Regions from separate parts of the Homo sapiens genome. Here all the other regions are reported to be linked to region 2. The links are microRNA targets in miRTarBase. Many come from high-throughput screens and were not tested one by one. Region 2 holds a microRNA gene; each other region holds the end of a gene's coding sequence.
The links. The annotated mature microRNA hsa-miR-520c-3p reads AAAGUGCUUCCUUUUAGAGGGU and lies in region 2 at 2,366-2,387, shown strand. An mRNA with a match to its seed (bases 2 to 7 or 8) in the 3' UTR can be bound and repressed. Matches are read on the target gene's strand: a 7mer-m8 pairs with bases 2 to 8, a 7mer-A1 pairs with bases 2 to 7 and ends in A, and an 8mer does both.

Region 1 (3,000 bases), not on the chromosome of region 2:
ACCAAATATTACCTGCTTACTCTTCGTTTAATTGAGCCTCTCTAAAAATCATTTGGATAATGTCTGTTTGTTTGTTTGTTTTAACAGAAAGAATGCAATGAAGATTGTAACTTCAAAGAACTAATTCTGGAAAACCATTACAACACATATGCATCAGCTAAATGGACACACAACGGAGGGGAAATGTTTGTTGCCTTAAATCAAAAGGGGATTCCTGTAAGAGGAAAAAAAACGAAGAAAGAACAAAAAACAGCCCACTTTCTTCCTATGGCAATAACTTAATTGCATATGGTATATAAAGAACCAGTTCCAGCAGGGAGATTTCTTTAAGTGGACTGTTTTCTTTCTTCTCAAAATTTTCTTTCCTTTTATTTTTTAGTAATCAAGAAAGGCTGGAAAACTACTGAAAAACTGATCAAGCTGGACTTGTGCATTTATGTTTGTTTTAAGACACTGCATTAAAGAAAGATTTGAAAAGTATACACAAAAATCAGATTTAGTAACTAAAGGTTGTAAAAAATTGTAAAACTGGTTGTACAATCATGATGTTAGTAACAGTAATTTTTTTCTTAAATTAATTTACCCTTAAGAGTATGTTAGATTTGATTATCTGATAATGATTATTTAAATATTCCTATCTGCTTATAAAATGGCTGCTATAATAATAATAATACAGATGTTGTTATATAAGGTATATCAGACCTACAGGCTTCTGGCAGGATTTGTCAGATAATCAAGCCACACTAACTATGGAAAATGAGCAGCATTTTAAATGCTTTCTAGTGAAAAATTATAATCTACTTAAACTCTAATCAGAAAAAAAATTCTCAAAAAAACTATTATGAAAGTCAATAAAATAGATAATTTAACAAAAGTACAGGATTAGAACATGCTTATACCTATAAATAAGAACAAAATTTCTAATGCTGCTCAAGTGGAAAGGGTATTGCTAAAAGGATGTTTCCAAAAATCTTGTATATAAGATAGCAACAGTGATTGATGATAATACTGTACTTCATCTTACTTGCCACAAAATAACATTTTATAAATCCTCAAAGTAAAATTGAGAAATCTTTAAGTTTTTTTCAAGTAACATAATCTATCTTTGTATAATTCATATTTGGGAATATGGCTTTTAATAATGTTCTTCCCACAAATAATCATGCTTTTTTCCTATGGTTACAGCATTAAACTCTATTTTAAGTTGTTTTTGAACTTTATTGTTTTGTTATTTAAGTTTATGTTATTTATAAAAAAAAAACCTTAATAAGCTGTATCTGTTTCATATGCTTTTAATTTTAAAGGAATAACAAAACTGTCTGGCTCAACGGCAAGTTTCCCTCCCTTTTCTGACTGACACTAAGTCTAGCACACAGCACTTGGGCCAGCAAATCCTGGAAGGCAGACAAAAATAAGAGCCTGAAGCAATGCTTACAATAGATGTCTCACACAGAACAATACAAATATGTAAAAAATCTTTCACCACATATTCTTGCCAATTAATTGGATCATATAAGTAAAATCATTACAAATATAAGTATTTACAGGATTTTAAAGTTAGAATATATTTGAATGCATGGGTAGAAAATATCATATTTTAAAACTATGTATATTTAAATTTAGTAATTTTCTAATCTCTAGAAATCTCTGCTGTTCAAAAGGTGGCAGCACTGAAAGTTGTTTTCCTGTTAGATGGCAAGAGCACAATGCCCAAAATAGAAGATGCAGTTAAGAATAAGGGGCCCTGAATGTCATGAAGGCTTGAGGTCAGCCTACAGATAACAGGATTATTACAAGGATGAATTTCCACTTCAAAAGTCTTTCATTGGCAGATCTTGGTAGCACTTTATATGTTCACCAATGGGAGGTCAATATTTATCTAATTTAAAAGGTATGCTAACCACTGTGGTTTTAATTTCAAAATATTTGTCATTCAAGTCCCTTTACATAAATAGTATTTGGTAATACATTTATAGATGAGAGTTATATGAAAAGGCTAGGTCAACAAAAACAATAGATTCATTTAATTTTCCTGTGGTTGACCTATACGACCAGGATGTAGAAAACTAGAAAGAACTGCCCTTCCTCAGATATACTCTTGGGAGAGAGCATGAATGGTATTCTGAACTATCACCTGATTCAAGGACTTTGCTAGCTAGGTTTTGAGGTCAGGCTTCAGTAACTGTAGTCTTGTGAGCATATTGAGGGCAGAGGAGGACTTAGTTTTTCATATGTGTTTCCTTAGTGCCTAGCAGACTATCTGTTCATAATCAGTTTTCAGTGTGAATTCACTGAATGTTTATAGACAAAAGAAAATACACACTAAAACTAATCTTCATTTTAAAAGGGTAAAACATGACTATACAGAAATTTAAATAGAAATAGTGTATATACATATAAAATACAAGCTATGTTAGGACCAAATGCTCTTTGTCTATGGAGTTATACTTCCATCAAATTACATAGCAATGCTGAATTAGGCAAAACCAACATTTAGTGGTAAATCCATTCCTGGTAGTATAAGTCACCTAAAAAAGACTTCTAGAAATATGTACTTTAATTATTTGTTTTTCTCCTATTTTTAAATTTATTATGCAAATTTTAGAAAATAAAATTTGCTCTAGTTACACACCTTTAGAATTCTAGAATATTAAAACTGTAAGGGGCCTCCATCCCTCTTACTCATTTGTAGTCTAGGAAATTGAGATTTTGATACACCTAAGGTCACGCAGCTGGGTAGATATACAGCTGTCACAAGAGTCTAGATCAGTTAGCACATGCTTTCTACTCTTCGATTATTAGTATTATTAGCTAATGGTCTTTGGCATGTTTTTGTTTTTTATTTCTGTTGAGATATAGCCTTTACATTTGTACACAAATGTGACTATGTCTTGGCAATGCACTTCATACACAATGACTAATCTATACTGTGATGATTTGACTCAAAAGGAGAAAAGAAATTATGTAGTTTTCAATTCTGATTCCTATTCACCTTTTGTT
Region 2 (4,352 bases):
TTTTTTTGTATTTTTAGAGCTGGGATTTTACCTTGTTGGCGAGGCTGGTCTGGAACTCCTGACCTCAGGTGACTCGCCCACCTTGGCCTCCCAACAAGTTATGCTGATCTTGGTAATAACTTCGCAGAGCGTGCTTCCATCAGACATGGAGGATGGTGGGGTCCTGTTTTGTTGTTGTTGTTTTTCTAAGATAGGGTCTCTTGCCCAGGCTGGAGTGTGTTGGCACTTCCAACCTAGGTGTCTTGGGCTCAAATGGTCCTCTTTTTTCGGACAGTCTTGCTCTGTGACCCATGCTGGAGTGTAGTGACGTGATCTCAGCTCACTGCAACCTCCACCTCCCAGTTTTAGGCAGTTCTCCTGCCTCACATTCCTGAGTAGCTGGGATTATAGGTGCCTGACACCATGCCTGGCTAATATTTGCATGTTATTTATTCATGTATTTATTTGTTTTGAGATGGAGTCTCACTGTCACTCAGGCCAGAGGGCAGTGGCAGGACCTCGGCTCACTCAAACCTTTGCCTCTCAGGTTCAAGCAAGTCTTCTGCCTCAACCTCCTGAGTAGCTGGAATCACAGGCACCCGTCACCACGCCCGGTTACTTTTGTATTTTTTTTTTCACCATGTTGGCCAGGCTGGTCTGAAACCCCTGACTTCATGTGAGCCGCCCGCCTCAGCCACCCAAAGTGGTGGGATTACAGGCATAAGCCACTGCGCCCGGCCAACAATGTATATTTTTCAACATGGGAGATTCAGTTTTGAATGCTCCCATCGGGACTGTGTGTCCCTGTGCTGGAACTCAAGTGAACGCTTGGCTCAAAATCCATTGCTGTTCTCTAGAAATCCAGCCCAATTCTCTTGGTTAAATGTAAGGTATGTGTAGTAGGCAATGCTTTTTCTGGAGACAGAACTCAGGAGGATTGTCCCTCGATGATCTAGGCTAACCTGCTGAGACTTTGAAGCAAGGAACTGGAGATGGTCCTTTTAGGGTTTTATGTTCTGGATTCCAGAAAACATGCAAACAGGGCCAATAAATGCATCCTCATTTTTGTGTCCATTTTAACCTGGTGAAGGAAAATTCCAACAAAAAACCCACAGTGCTGGAGCAAGAAGAGCTCAGGCTGTGACCCTCTAGAGGGAAGCACTTTCTGTTGCTTGAAAGAAGAGAAAGCGCTTCCTTTTAGAGGATTACTCTTTGAGAAAAACAACATTGAAGTTAATGCTGATCTTGGAGATCATGCTTATAATCAGACTTGGATGATGTTGGGGTTTTGTGGGGTTTTTTTGGTTTTTTTTCCTAAGACAGGGTGTCTGTTGCCCAGGCTGGAGTATGGTGGCCCCTCCAACCTAGATCTCTTGGGTTCAAGTGGCCCTCTTTTTTGGGACAGAGTCTTGCTCTGTGACCCTGGCTGGAGCTCAGTATCAGGAACTTTGCTCACTGCAACCTCTGCCTCCCAGGTTCAAATGATTCTCCTGCCTCAGCCTCCCGAGCAGCTGGGATTACAGGCATATGCCACCACGCCCAGCTAATTTTTGTATTATTGTTATGTATTTATTTTTTAACTTATTCATTTTAGAGACAGAGTCTCACTCTGTCGCCCAGGCTGGAGTGCAGTGGTGCGATCTCGGCTCACTGCAACCTCCAACTCCCAGCTCAGCCTCCTGAATAGCTGTCTGCAGGCATACACCACCACACCTGGCTAACTTTTGGTTTTTTTGTACAGATGTGGTTTCCCCATGTTGCCCAGGTTGGTCTCGAACTCCTTAGCTCAGGTGATCTTCCACCTTGGCCTCCTAAAGTGCTAGGATTAGTGGTGTGAGCTGTTGTGCCCCACCTATACTCGTCTGTTTCTGCTCAGATTTTATTGAGGAGCGTTTACAGGGTAGCCTGTTGTCTACCCTGCAGGATGTTTGTGCCTACAACAGTGTATATTCTTCAACATCTTAGATTCCATTTCGGATGCCCCCATGAGGACTGTGCGCTCCTGTACTGGAACTCAAGCGACCACTTGGCTCAAAATCCATTGCTATTCTCTAGAAATCCAGCCCAATTCTCTTGGTTAAAGATAAGGTATGTGTAGTAGGCATTGCCTTTTCTCTTTGGGAACAAAACTCAGGAGGATTGCCCGTTGATGAACAAGGCTAACCTGCTGATTCTTTGAAGCAAAGAACTGCAGATGGTCCTTTTAGGGATTTATGCTCTGGATTCCAGAAAACATGCAAACAGGGCAAATAAATGCATCTTTATTTTTGCGTCCATTTTAACCTGGTCAAGGAAGATTCCCACAAAAAATCCACAGTGCCAGAGCAAGAAGATCTCAGGCTGTCGTCCTCTAGAGGGAAGCACTTTCTGTTGTCTGAAAGAAAAGAAAGTGCTTCCTTTTAGAGGGTTACCGTTTGAGAAAAGCAACATTGAAGTTGATGCTGATCTTGGTAATACATTTTCAGAGCATGCTTATCATCAGAGATGGATGATGGTGGGCTTCTGTTTTTGTTTTGATTTTTTCTTTTTTTTTTTTTTGAGATGGAGTTTCGTTCTTGCTGCCCAAGCACTAGTATGTAGGAATTATTCTTTATGTGAGCATATAGTACATGGAACTTTGTTTTTTTGAGACAGGGTCTCCAAAATATATACATGTTATCATATAATCTTCTATGTATAATTATATTCACACAAAATAGTCTTCTGCACACAGAGAATACTCTTATATCACTTTGGGGTTGTTTTTGTTTGTGTATTTTTTTTTTTTTTAATTTTTTTTGAGACACCATCTGGCTCTATTGCCCAGGCTGGAGTGCAGTGTTGTGACCTCAACTCACTGCAGCCTCTACCTCCCACCTCAGCCTCCTGAATTAGTGTCTACAGGCATGAACCACTACACCTGGCTATCTTTTGTATTTTTACAGATGAGGTTTTACTATGTTGGGCAGGCTAGTTTTGAACTCGAGCTCATGTAATTTTCCCGCCTTCGACTCCTAAAGTGCTGGGATTAGAGGTGTAAGCCACTGCACTCCACCCGTACTTCTGTACAAATGTTATTGAGGAGCTTTTACGGCCTAGGCAGTGCTCTATCCTGGAGAATGTTTGTGTGTAAGACAATGCATATTCTTTTTTTCTTTCCTGTCACCCAGGCTGGAGTGCATTGGCACGATCTCGTCTCACTGCAACCTCCGCCTCCCGGGTTCAAGCAATTCTCCTGCCTCAGCCTCCTGAGTAGCTGGGATTACAGGTGGGCACCACCACGCCTGGCAAATTTAGATTCCATTTTGGATGCTCCCATCATGACTGTGTGTCCCTGTGCTGGAACTCAAGTGACCATGTGACTCAATCCATTGCTGTTCTCTAGAAATCCACCTCAATTCTCTTGGTTAAAGGTAAGGTATGTGTAGTGGGCATTGCTTTTTCTCCTTGGAGACAAAACTTAGGAGGATTCCCCTTGATGAACAAGGCTAATCTGCTGAGCCTGGAGATTGTCCTTTTAGAGGTTTATGTTCTGGATTCCAGAAAACGGTCAAACAGCGAATAAATGCATCTTTATATTTGTGTCCATCTTAACCTGGTCAAGGAAAATTTCAACAAAAATCCCAGATGGCTGGAGCGAGAAGATCTCATGCTGTGACTCTCTGGAGGGAAGCACTTTCTGTTGTCTGAAAGAAAACAAAGCGCTTCTCTTTAGAGTGTTACGGTTTGAGAAAAGCAACGTTGAAGTTGATGCTGATCTTGGTAATACATTCGCAGAGCATGCTTATCAGGCTTGGATGACGGCAGGGTTCTGTTTTGGTTTTATTTTTTTCCAAGACCAGTCTCTGTTGCCCAGGCTGGAGAGGGAGGGGTTGCACTCCAAACTAGATCTCTTGGGGTCATGTCTTGCTCTATTATTATTATTAATTCTTATTTTTGTGTGTGTGTGAGACGGAGTCTCGCTCTGTCACCAGGTTGGAGTCCAGTGGCGGAATCTCAGCTCACTGCAACCTCCGACTCCGTGGTTCAAGCGATTCTCCTGCCTCAGCCTCCTGAGTAGCTGGGATTACAGGCACGCACCGCCATGCCGAGCTAATTTTTGTATTTTTAGTAGAGACCGGGTTTCACCACGTTGGCCAGGATGGTCTCAAACTCCTGACCTCATGATCCACCCGCCTCGGCCTCCCAAAGTGCTGGGATTACAGGTGTGAGCCTCCGTGCCCAGCCTGTTATTTTATTTTGTTTTATTTTATTTATTTTATTTTATTTTGAGATGGAGACTGGCTCTGTCGCCCAGGCTGGAATGCAGTGGCAGGATCTCCACTCACTGTAACTCCCACCTCTGTCGCCCAGGCTGGAGTGCAGTGGCAGGATCTCCACTCACCGTGGAGTTC
Region 3 (3,000 bases), not on the chromosome of region 2:
AGGTGTGGTCACACAGGCCTGTGGTCCTAGCTACTTGGGAAGCTGAGGTGGGAGGATCACTTGAGCCTAGGATGTCAAGGCTGCAGGGAGCCGTGACCACTGCACTGCACTCCAGCCTGGGCGACAGAGTAAGACGCTGTCTCAAAAAACATTTTTTTAAATTTTTAATTAAAAATGTATTAATTATGTTGGTCTTTCACTGTCTCGTAACAAAAGTTAAGACATTTTTCCTTTTGTTTTTCTCCTCTCCATCCAGGCCAGTCAGTTGGAGGAGCTTTTTCCAGTGCAAAGACAGCTATGTCTTCATGGCTTTCCACTTTCACCACTTCCACCTCCCAAAGTCTCACTGAGCCACCAGATGAGAAGCCTTGAGCAAGGCGTCAGAGGCTGCTATTGCTTTCTGAGGTTTAAGTGTCCCCTGTCTGTCTGCTGCTCCCAGGCTGTTACTAGCCACAGATCCACAGCAGGGGACCATATGTCGAACTGTTTACATGGATGTTGCTCTAAGTGAATGTTTCGGGATGCCGAAATGATGAAATCACAGCCATAGCAGGGATGGCTTTCCAGGTTGGGGTTTCAATTGACTACTTTTATTTCAGTCTGAGCCTGATTAAAACATACAGTGAACCTTCTAATGAATTTTGAGTTCTGATATTGTACATTGGTTTACTTTAGAAGAGTTTTTACTTATGTAAATTTTGTTCTGTTTTGGTGTTTGAATATCTAGATGGTCACTGTAATTTATACTTGCTAAAATTAATTTATATTACCATTTTCTCTAAAGTTGGCCTTAAAACGTGCTTATAAAGTGAAGGGGTCATACAGTTGGGCCTTCATTATTTTGCTGAATTATGTGATGATTTTTTTGCTTTCTACCCACAAAACATTTATTAATTCACTTCCTCCCAGAAACATGAAAGTTAGAGGTGGTAGTTCTGAGGATTGGGTGTTTTGTTTTACGTTTTTAGTTTGTTCTTTCCACATCCTTAAAAACTTGGTTTCAGACATCAAGGAGTATCACTGTGCTTTCCTCCTCTTTATAACTGTGCAGGTGGGTGTGCAGAGAAATAGCAGAGTGATGGTTCGATGATACTGAAGCAGTTTAACATGAATGTGTCTGTAGGGCAATACTTTCAAAGAAGACCTATGTGTTTATTTTTCAACCGCAGTCATGTTGCAGTCTTACAAGCACTTTTTTTTTATTCCAGAGTTTGTGCCATCTGTTTCTCTTTTTTTTTTTGGGGGGGGGGGGGGGGCGGGGTCTCACTCTATCGCCCAGGCTGGAGTGCAGTGGTGCCATCTCGGCTCACTGCAACCTCCATCTCCCGGGTTCAAGCAATTCTTGTACCTCAGCCTCCCAAGTAGCTGGGATTATGGACATGCGCCACCATGCCCAGCTAATTATTGTATTTTTAGTAGAGACGGGGTTTTGCCATGTTGGCCAGGCTGGTCTTGATCTCCTGGCCTCAAGTGATCTGCCCGCCTCAGCCTCTCAAAGTGCTGGGACTACAGGCATGAGCCACTGCGCCTGGCCTGTTTCTTTTTTAAACAGTTTTCTATTGGGTGTTTGCAGACCTACAGCTTTTCTCGTAGTCTTATTCATAAAGCTTTTCAAAGCACTTAGTCTTCTACTTCCCTAACTGAAAGTCCTCCTATAATCAATCCCTACCCCCTTCTAGAAGTATCTTAAAAGAAAAGCAAGGTGATTGTAAGTATTAAATAGAAATCTCATCTTAGTTTATATTCAGCAAAGTAAGAGGCAAGAGAAGAAAACTGCAGCCTTGACATCTGTCATCTGAGAAAGGATATCTGGTTTCATGTTAGGCACATACATGCATGTGTGTGCCATCTACTGATGATTTGTACACAGCTGGACCTCGTGTGTTTGCCATGCTCAGCTCTCATTTGCTTTTCAAGGATACCTGGGATGGCTGTTCTCAGAGAGTACTTACGGGGAACAGACTGCCTTTTAGTAACAAGGGATACTTGGGAAATACATTGTGAGTATGATCTATCCCAGATTGCTGGGGAAATAAAGGAGGGCCCTGATTATATTTGGTTTATTCCTCACTAAATGTTTAAGAAGTAAATGCTCCCAAGGCATTTGAAATGAACATAGAAACATAATCTAAATGTCTCTAAATTTTCCACTTTGTGTTTTCTAAACACAAATTGTATTACTCATTTGAGCATAACTCAAGAATTCAGCGATGATAAATTGAAGGGCTGAATGTGAGAACTCCATTAATTCCACTTCTTCCAAGAAAGTTAACCTCAGGAAATGCTGTTTGAAGAGAAGAAAGTAGTACCAAACAAAAACCTTAAACAGTACTTGAATCTTTTTTGCGCTGAGACTATAAAGAATTCATTCTAACATCTTGTTTCATAAGGGCCACATCATTCGTTGGAGCATGATAGTGTGATTTGTGTACAATTGTTACCTCTCAGCTGCTGAAGTTCACACTTCAAGGATCTAGGAGCTCTGTGAGGGGTCGTCCAGCAAGATGCTGATTTGTCTTTCAGTTGGTATGGTTTCTGTGATCGGGGTAAACTCCCGTCTCCCACTATTCAAAAGCAGCCCAACTCATGCTTTGGAATCCACTGAAATAAAAATAGTTACATGAAGTTTAACTTTGCTTTAATATCACTTGTTCCTCATTGAATATACACTTTGATCGGACTTTCTATTAACATTTCTAGCTAAGAGTTTGACTCTTAGTGGTCACTTTACTGACTTTCCAACATAAAACAAGTATCTCAGAAGATACAACTTTCATCATAGAAATGGTCAAAAGACCATAGCTATATTTCCTTCAGGTTCTGGGAGGTGGAGTTTTTCAAGGAACACTGGCTGTTGTATTGTTGGCAGGGGCCCCAAGGCAGCTCGCACAATCAAAGGCAGGAAGCCTCACCCCTGGTCCTGTGACCCCCCCCCCCCACACACACACATACTTCAGGCTTGGATTCTAGGCTCCAAGTGGCCAGCATAGAAGCAGCAGC

Region 1: the mRNA of FGF7 is a reported target of hsa-miR-520c-3p. Seed matches in the 3' UTR shown: 7mer-m8 at 1,375-1,381 and 7mer-m8 at 1,841-1,847.
Region 3: miRTarBase lists AVL9 as a target of hsa-miR-520c-3p. Seed matches in the 3' UTR shown: 7mer-m8 at 1,188-1,194 and 8mer at 1,616-1,623.

Annotation. Positions count from the first base shown.
Region 1 is chr15:49,484,223-49,487,222 of GRCh38, forward strand. It overlaps FGF7 (fibroblast growth factor 7), which reads left to right. Exons shown (of 4, transcript NM_002009.4): 4 at 88-3,000. The coding sequence ends at 282. All of the region lies in intron 11 of FAM227B (family with sequence similarity 227 member B), which reads right to left. Among named protein-coding and RNA genes, the nearest start is that of FGF7, 62 kb to the left of the region's middle.
Region 2 is chr19:53,705,141-53,709,492 of GRCh38, forward strand. MIR520C (microRNA 520c) reads left to right here and starts at 2,313; the gene lies at 2,313-2,399. MIR526A1 (microRNA 526a-1) reads left to right here and starts at 1,112; the gene lies at 1,112-1,196. MIR518C (microRNA 518c) reads left to right here and starts at 3,595; the gene lies at 3,595-3,695. It overlaps LOC107985346 (a long non-coding RNA gene), which reads left to right. Exons shown (of 5, transcript XR_001753998.1): 4 at 1,945-2,067; 5 at 3,129-3,169.
Region 3 is chr7:32,583,536-32,586,535 of GRCh38, forward strand. AVL9 (AVL9 cell migration associated) reads left to right here. Exons shown (of 16, transcript NM_015060.3): 16 at 257-3,000. The coding sequence ends at 372. It also overlaps the pseudogene DPY19L1P1. Among named protein-coding and RNA genes, the nearest start is that of AVL9, 90 kb to the left of the region's middle.